Linked DNA regions of Homo sapiens: region 1 is linked to region 2. Evidence: fine-mapped expression QTL. A gene starts in region 2. The other region holds a variant in brackets. All regions are shown on one strand. Distances are between the middles of the regions. Region 1 has its middle 71 kb from the start of SLC9A6. Region 2 holds the start of FHL1 (four and a half LIM domains 1).

Region 1 (4,401 bases), 140 kb before region 2:
CCACACTCCAGCCTGGGCAACAGAGTGAGACTCCATCTCCAAAAATAAATAAATAAATAAATAAACAAACAAACAAATAAGACAGGGTCTTGTTCTGTAGCCCAGGTTGGAGTGCAGTGCCATGATCAAGGCTCGCTGCAGCCTCAACCTCCAGTGCTCAAGTGATCCTCCCACCTCAGCCTCCCAAGTAGCTGTTTATTACAGGCACGTGCCACAAAGCCCGGCTATTTTTATTTTTTATTTTTTATAGAGACAAGGTCTCACTATGTTGTCCAGTCTGGCCTCAAACTCCTGGTCTCAAGCAATCCACCTGCCTCAGCCTCCCCAAGGATTGGGATTATAAGCATGAGCCACTGCACCCAGCCTAACCTAGCTTTAACTAGCACTTTCACATTACTCACTGGTGTAAGAATTTTTCCCAGGCCACCATGCTCAATATGTTACCAGGAGTGGCAATGTATGGAAGACATGATCATACAGGGGTTTTAGAAAGATCACTTACTGTAGCTACGGTGGAAAGGATGAATTATTTGGAGATGGGTAACAGTGGACACAGAGATGATGGTTAGAAGACTTGGTCAGGTGAGAGAGAATGGTGGCCTAAGCACAGGAATACAGTAGGGGTCGAAAGGAGGGGACAGATGCAAGAGACATCTGGTTGGTGTTGATTTGGAGACTAGCCGTAGTGAATGGGTGAGGGGGACAGGTTACAGTGATTACCAGCAACCTGGATTGGGCAAATCAGTGGATGGGGTGGTGGGAATCACAATTTTAGAAGATACCTATTAGGACCAAGAGATTGAGAGATGTAGCGGTCAAAGCACAAATCTAAATTTGTTTCTGGATCACTTAGGTAAGGGTAGGTGGAGCCCAATTAAGAAAAGAGGGGAGGGAGAGGAGGGCTAAGGGCCCCAAACAAAAAGGCTGGGAAAGGATACGAGTTTGAAAAACACCAGGGTTTGCCATCCATTCTCTCATTATAACCTAAAAACATCTGGAGCTTTTTGCTATGGGTGGTGTCTGGGGAAAAATAATTGCTTTAACCAAAGTACAATGGATGGAGGAAAAAATAAATTATTTTCCCTCCTTACGAAAAACAGAAAGCTACAGAAGTTCTCAGGGAATGATGGGTGGTGTTATTAGGAAACTTTCAAATGTACGTCACTCTGGATTTCAGTGTATTCACCTCCAGTCTGGCCAGAAGAATGAAAATATATGTTGTGGGCTCTCTAAAACACAGTTTTTAGCATTTTCCAGAAGGGTCAAGGGCCAAGGAATGAATACTGGATGTGGAAAGGAAGCCACGGCTAGTTGGCCAGTCTCTTTCTGGTTCTGTGTGGGTTTGCATGCAAGCTAAGAGACGGCTTCGCTTTTTGCTTTTCCTCAGAAGCTGTTGCAAGAGTTCTCAAGCAAATCCAATCTAGTGTCCAAGCCCTCTGGTATGCTGTTCTCAAACACTGTGTGCCACTAGCTTGCTGAAACAGTCCGTGCCTGACCTGCTGTCTTTATGGAAATTTGAACCAAATAGCAACTGTTGGGATGGAGGTCATCCAATAGGCATGGATACAAACTTTCAAAATATTGGGCTTTGCCTCACTAGAAGGAAATCAGCAAGTGACAGTATAACTGAAAAAAGAAAGCTTAGGGGTCTATATTAAGATGAAGGAAACATCTGGTTTTTGTTTTCTCAACTTTTATTAATTCATCAGAGGTGTGAGTCACCAGTACACTCAGCCAATGTTTCCAAAATGAAGTCCTCATTGCCTCCGGAGTGGCTGGGAAAAGTCACTTCAGAACTAACTTGAGAGAAAGATGATGGACAAAGAGATGTCTTTTTTTTTTTTTTTTTTAAGAAATGTAGTGCTGGTCCTGATACGTAGAGGTCTTTCCTAAAATTGCTTGTGTTAAACCCCAATTACATTCCTTCCTCGGCAGGAATTTATTTCTTCACCCAGAAACTGTAGGACTGATGTGCTGACCTAAAAAACATACATTAAACGCAGAACCTCCCCTTTACCTACAAAGGCAGTCCAGGACAAAGCTGGCTATTCTATGTAACAATGGAGCCCACAGCTCTGCTCTCATTACACTGAGCTCTGTTCTTTCTGACCCATTGGTAGGGATGTCAGTAGTGCGATTCCAAACTCTGTTTCATAGGAAACCAATGACTTGATTATACAAATTCTTCCTTCATTCCTTCTGTCTGATCTAGAAAGTCAGAGGTACATCAGGCATGCTGCCTGCACTCAAGGAGCTCACAGTCTAGTGGTGAAGATAGCCTTGTCATTAGATACATGGTTTTAGAGCTCAGCATTTATTAGATATGTGGTTTTAGAGCTCAGCATTTCTAGTTTGTAAATGTAATAGATCAAAATGGCCATTTTTTTCTTGTAGAGAACTTCATGCCATCTTTTCATTATGCCCTTTAGCAGGATCAATAGCTTATTATTAGATATTTTTGGTATTTCTCTGATTTCTCCACTGATTTTATGTGAACAAGCAGCATCTGTGCATGTAGTTTCTGTACCACGCATTTGGAGTCACTTCTAAGGATGAACAGAAGAACTTACAAGGTAAATTAAAAGCAAAAGTAACTGGCACACTGCTTCTATCTGTGCTGAGCCAGTTGC[C/T]ACTTCCTCTCCATAACCCTGGTATATTATAGAACTTTTTCTTGTTGTTAGGCTAAGGAAGAAACGAAAGGGTAGCTTCAGGCCAGTGGCTCACGCCCGTAATCCCAGCACTTTGGGAGGCCGAGGTAGGTTGATCACCTGAGGTCAGGAGTTCGAGACCAGCCTGGCCACCATGGCAAAACCCCATCTCTACTAAAAATACAAAAATTAGCCAGGCTTACTACAGAGGCTGAGGGGGGAGAATCGCTTGAGCCTAGGAGGTGGAGGTTGGTTGCAGTGAGCCGAGATTGTGCCATTGCACTCCAGCCTGGGCAACAAGAGCGAAACTCTGTCTCAAAAAAAAAAAAAAAAAAAAGATAGCTTCAGATACCACTCTAATTATACAGCATCTAGAGTCTGTACTTATAGACAATGATCCAATTCTATATCAAATAAAGCACAAACCAGGTCTTAAATATTTTAATGACATGACTGAATTCAAATAACAGTGTCTAGTTGGGTAGTTCAGGACAGAAATTTCCAGCTTGTGGGCATTGTAGTTTCTTACTGTAAGATAGTCTTTATATCGTGTCCCTTGTAGTAAATGAAAACTTCAATCTTTATAAAGAAAATGATGTCATCGGCTTGCCCTTTTCTCTAGTCCCCATCAGATTGAATTTAAATATGATACCGGCAAGAACAACAGAGTAAATGATCAGTTTGTGATGCATCTGGTCCAAGGGGGATTATTTTGACAGTCTGTTCTAACCATACAAACAATGTTTCCAATAAAAAGTTTTATTAGGTGTTGTCACAGATATAAATGTTTCATAAAGATAGCACTCCAGTTGTAAATCATACTTGAAATCATTCTAAAGTCACCTCATTAGATACCAAGAAAAACTATGTCTTTCACATAAATTCTGGCCTCGAGTGACTTTAAAAAAAAGGAGCAAAGAATAAAAAAACAAAACTCAAGCCCCAGCCATCTAAGGCTGAACTTTAAGAGAACTGACAGGAATAAGAAAATTTCCTTTGTCTGTTTTTGTAATCTTTTTAAGATCATACACTTCAAACATTTCATTATCTTCCTGGGTCCATCAGATTCTCCAGAAATGATGGAAGTGGAAAAATAATCTAAACTCACTTTTTAGAAAAACTCTGGCTCATTGGCCAAGCGCGGTGGCTCACATCTGTAATCCCAGTACTTTGGGAGGCAAAGGCTGGCAGGTCACCTGATGTCAGGAGTTTGGAACCAGCCTGGCAAACATGGAGAGACCCAGTTTCTACTAAAAATACAAAAATTAGCCGGGCCTGGTGGCGCATGCCTGTAATCCCAGCTATTCGGGAGGCTGAGGTAGGAGAATCGCTTGAACCTGGGAGGTGGAGGTTGCAGTGAGCTGACATCACACCACCACACTCCAGCCTGGGCGACAGAGTGAGACTCTGTCTCAAAACAAACAAACAAAACCTCTGGCTTATTGAAGTATGATTTATATGCCATAAAATTTATCCTTTAGCATATAGCTCTGTGAGCTTTGAAAAACATAGACGGCCGGGTGTGGTGGCTCACGCCTGTAATCCCAGCACTTTGGGAGGCCGAGGCGGGTGGATCCCCTGAGGCCAGGAGTTCGAGACCAGCCTGGCCAAAATGGTGAAATCCTGTCTCTACTAAAAATACAAAAAATTAGCCTGGCGTGGTGGCAGGAGCCTGTAATCCCAACAATTCAGGAGGCTGAGGCAGGAGAATGGCTTGAACCCAGGAGGCGGAGGCTGGAGTGAGCTGAAGTGA
Region 2 (4,401 bases):
TCTAATTCTGTGGCTTGAGGACATCTGCAGTAGGGCCAGATGTCAGAGCAGGTAGTGGTCATGCTTCATGAAGTTTTTAGGAGGGCACAGTTACCTGGTTGATGCAAATGGAAGTAACTGGAATAAATGCTATTGTTGCAGGCCCAAGCTCCCAGTCCATCCTGGCTGGTCATAGTTGACTAATTCATGGTGGTCAAAAAGTGATTCTCTTGTCTTTGAATTTTCTCTTGTATTTTAGGCAAAACAGATTTGTTTTTTGATACTTTCATAAAGCTGTCTATCCATATTCTGTTGTCACTTTTCAAAATGATCAGAAACCTAAAGAACTACCATACTTGCCTAAAAGAAGACACTTCCTGATGCATAGCTTGAAACAGGAATTGACTTCCTAAAGGAAAGTATTTGGCACACCAAGCCTATTGTTCACAGCGCTGCAAGAGAGGCATTTCAACATACATGGGCTCTTCCTAAAAATATAACTTGCTAAAATAAAAAATTCAGGGTTCATTAAGGTTAATCATCTAATAAAGTAAGAGAATTTCCTCTAGGTGAAAAGTTTCAGTTTATTTTAGGGGTGTGGTGTTGTTACAACTGGCTAATCTCCGCACCATAATTTAATCAGGCTGGATGAGAAAGAGACTAGAAAGGCGTGGAGCCAGAGCACAGTGTAGCTTCTCTTCTTTTCCCAGGCTTATTTTTTTCCTCTAACATGTAATAAATTTACTCGTAACAACCTGGCTTTTATTGTGTCATTTTCTAGCTAACTGGGAGTTACTGATGTCAGTTGTCTTTTAGAATAACTTTTCCTTAAACATTTGAAGATCGTAAGAATTGGGGAACTCATTCATTCATTTATTCATGGAGCATTTACTGCTCACCTACTGTGTGCTATAGGAACATGAAGACAAGCAAAGCACTGCCCTGGCCCTCAACCTGGTAGGGGAGATGTGTGAATAGGGCCAAAACCACTTAAACAAGACAGTGGCTATAAAGGTGTCTGTACCAGCGAGAAGGTCAGCTGCCTTCCTTGAAGTTGAGTGGCCAAAACCACTTTCAGGATTGCAGGTGGGACTATGTTTTGGAGGCTTGATGGATTTTTCAGTTATTTAGTTCATTCTTTCAAGGAATAGTTATTGAGAGCCTCCTGGGAGCTGGGCAGTGTTCTAGGCTCTGGGGCCACTGCAGTGAGCTCCAGTACTAAATCCCTGCCTTCATGGAGCAAAGCAGGAGATCAGACAGCAAGGAGAGAAATCAGTGCAATACCAGCAGACTTGAAGTAGGGAAAGGAACAACCATGACTCTGGGCACAGGGGACAGTGAGGAGGCCAGTGAGGTGGGAGTGAGGGAAAGGGGGCTAAGGGTAAGGCCAGAGAAGGAATGTGGAAGAAGGTCCTGGAGGGACTTGGGGGCTTTCTTTTCCTAGAACATGCTCCTAATAGCCAGCCCCCAGACATCTGATGGCCTGTTGAGCTATTACAACATTTTAGGTTGATGTCTTCATTTTCATTCATGTTTTTCCTTTTATTGTCCCTGATGCTGAAAAACAAGAGGTTGAGTTTGTGAGACAAAATGTCTTCATTGTGTGTGTGATGGGGATAGGCATAGTCTCCCCATCTTGTTCTGTGCTGTCTGCCGTTAAGGAGGTGGGGAGATTACGATCACTCTCCTTTCCTGTACAGTAATCTGCTGATCTCTGGAACATACTAAGGAGGACATAGAGTGACAACATCTATAATCCCCTTAATCTCTATATTCATACTGTCTAATCTCCTTGAGTTACACTGGTAACATAAGTCTATCTCTTAGAGTTACTTTTATCATTAACAGCACAAAAATGTATTATTTACAGGGCCAAATGCAAGCTCTTGAGGCATATAAAGTGGATTAATAAGGTTGGCTCAGCGTTAAGCTATGCCAGAGCCGAGTCCAAATTTTATTCCGGTACAGGGATGACTTTCTATGTGGCCTCTCTGGCTCTGGAGCTAATTTGGATGCTGAGTAGCCCCGCAGGTATTTATATGTAGCGTTTGGTATTTTTACTGGGTCCTATTCTTCTCCCTTGGATCACCTAAAATGGTTAAGAATTTTCTAGTGGGATTAAGGTTGTGATCTCTGGGGAGGGGTGGGACATCTGCTCTCGGTTATTTTTGTGTTAGCCGCTTCCCCTTAAATGTATGTTCACAAATGAGCCACAGCCTTATCAGCTGGGGTTGAGGGAAGACTGGTCTAGGTGCTGCTCCTGAACTTGGTCTCTGAGCCATGGCTTCCCATAGACACTCAGGTAAAACTTCATGCTCTTTATCTTATATTGAGCACAGTTTTGTTAGGGCAGTGAATCCGTCATTGGGCTAAAAGATGGTTTTTGATGAAATGATTTTAGTCTTGTCTGAATAGTAAATAAATTATAGCTTGTCTCTGTTTTGCCTTTGCCTTTCATGCTATTTCAAAGACAAAATATTGTTCAAGTACAATGAACAGTTTGAGTGATTTATTTTAAAAAGAAGTATATAAACATGTTACCACTATATTTTTACCTTTTTCAGGACATCTCATGAAACTATAAGAGATTGTGGGAGGAAAGGTTTTTCTGGTTAGGAATTTTTGGCTTTCTTTTTTATAAGATACAATTCTTCATCTTGACAGTGCTTTACATCCAAGGTGTTTGGAGAAGGTAAATCGAATGTGGAGCTGAAAGGAGGAACATTTGTAACTAAGAAAGTCCATAATGACCTAGCACATCTTCCCTTTTGCTGACAATGTTTTAAATCTTCCCGAAGTAACAGCTATGTTCCTTTTGATATGCTAAGTATGTTATTAATTGTTTTTAGCAGAAAAAGGGGCACATTTTGGACTCCTTGGGACATGAGCATTTTCTTCTGGTTTTGTAACCTTACAATTAAGGAAGCCCTTTGGCCATCGACAAGAAATCTATGAACTAGGGGCTGAGGGGCCAAAAGCCCAGTTATTTGAAGCCAGGAGGGTGGCTGTGGCCCTGTGGCCCTCTGCCTAAGTAACGGTTCCCTTTCTTGGGGCTGGTAAAGTCAGACGGTTAGATATAAAGAAGGCACTTCATCCTGTCTCCCAGCTTTCAGATTAAGGGATGTCATTATCTATGTTTTTTTTTTTTTTTGAAAAATCATTTTTTAAAACTCATTGCCTGTCAATATTTAAACAATGGAAATACTTTAGGAAATTTCTCTTTTTGGGGTTTTAAATATGCTGCAATGGAATGCCCTACCTTAATGAATTAATATGTAATGTCTTCCCTGTTCCCAAGTGTTCAAAAGTTGTCTGGTTTTTTTTTTTTTCCAACCCTCAGGAGCTGTTTCACAAACATGGTACCAAATGCTTGAGATTGTGGTTATCAGCCAAGATACACATTCTCTGGGTGTAGGCAAACTAGTCAGCTGTGCTAGTTGTCCTGATGAACCTTAAATGCATGTTACCTGGTAGAATAACTCTCATTTTGTTTACTAATTAAGTGACAGAATAGTGACAGAAAGTTTAAAAGTTTAAATAGTGACAGAAAGTTTATAGCATACCCAACCTTGGGTTTTAAATTGCACCAAATTCTTATGTCGTTCTTGTGTATGTAAGTCTGGAGGCTCTAATAACTGTGGCTAAATGGGACCAATTATTTATACCTTTTAGATGATTTTTGAATTCAGGAAATTGCATTTTGTATTGCATTAGGTTAATAGATTCATGAAAGCAGAGAAGAATCAGTCCATGAGACAGAGAAGTCCTCATAGAAAATCAGTGTTGCCCTGAAACGGGCTCAGTATGGGCAAAATAGAAGCTAGGATAATTGGATCCAAATCCATTTTTAGTGACTATCCATATACTGAGAGGACATTTCAAGGACAAAAACAATGTATACTCTTGACATTGAAGACTTTCTGTCTGCAAAATTATGTAGATTCAATTTCTTTAGCCTTTGGCCTTTCAAGTCGAAAACCAGGTTTGGGGTGTGGAGGGGGATCAGGTCACTTGCCATATTACACAGCCATCGATTCCCTTCACCAGCTGCTGCTCAGTGGGCCGCACAAGCCCGCCAGTCTTTTCTCAGGGCAGGGATGGAAAATGAGAGGGTAGGATGAGAGGAAAGTAATCCAACTGGATTGGCTTCTTAAAATACAGAAGATTTGAGTGAGAGTGAAACTGAACATTTTGTGCTTTTGATGACCACCAAATGACTACCTACTACTTCACCACAGCTGGAGAAACTAAAAACACATGCTCTTTTGCTGCCGGGTCAGAAATGCTTTTTTTCCCATATGAAAGAGGGGCTGTGTTGCACGTAATCTGTGCAACATTATGAAAAATCTTCATATACAGACAAAATGGTACTAGAATTGAATCTGGACTGCAGGAAGTTCAGTGGCACATAATTTTTCTTTT

What was found. PIP is the estimated chance that this variant, and not a neighbour inherited with it, causes the effect.
Region 1: its variant is fine-mapped to the expression of FHL1 in whole blood (TOPMed, PIP above 0.99).

What each region holds. Positions count from the first base shown.
Region 1 is chrX:136,054,406-136,058,806 of GRCh38, forward strand. No RefSeq gene overlaps it. Among named protein-coding and RNA genes, the nearest start is that of SLC9A6, 71 kb to the left of the region's middle. The variant C/T (reference allele first, on the strand shown) is at 2,631.
Region 2 is chrX:136,194,854-136,199,254 of GRCh38, forward strand. It overlaps FHL1 (four and a half LIM domains 1), which reads left to right and starts at 2,194. Exons shown (of 6, transcript NM_001159699.2): 1 at 2,194-2,281. The coding sequence starts at 2,260.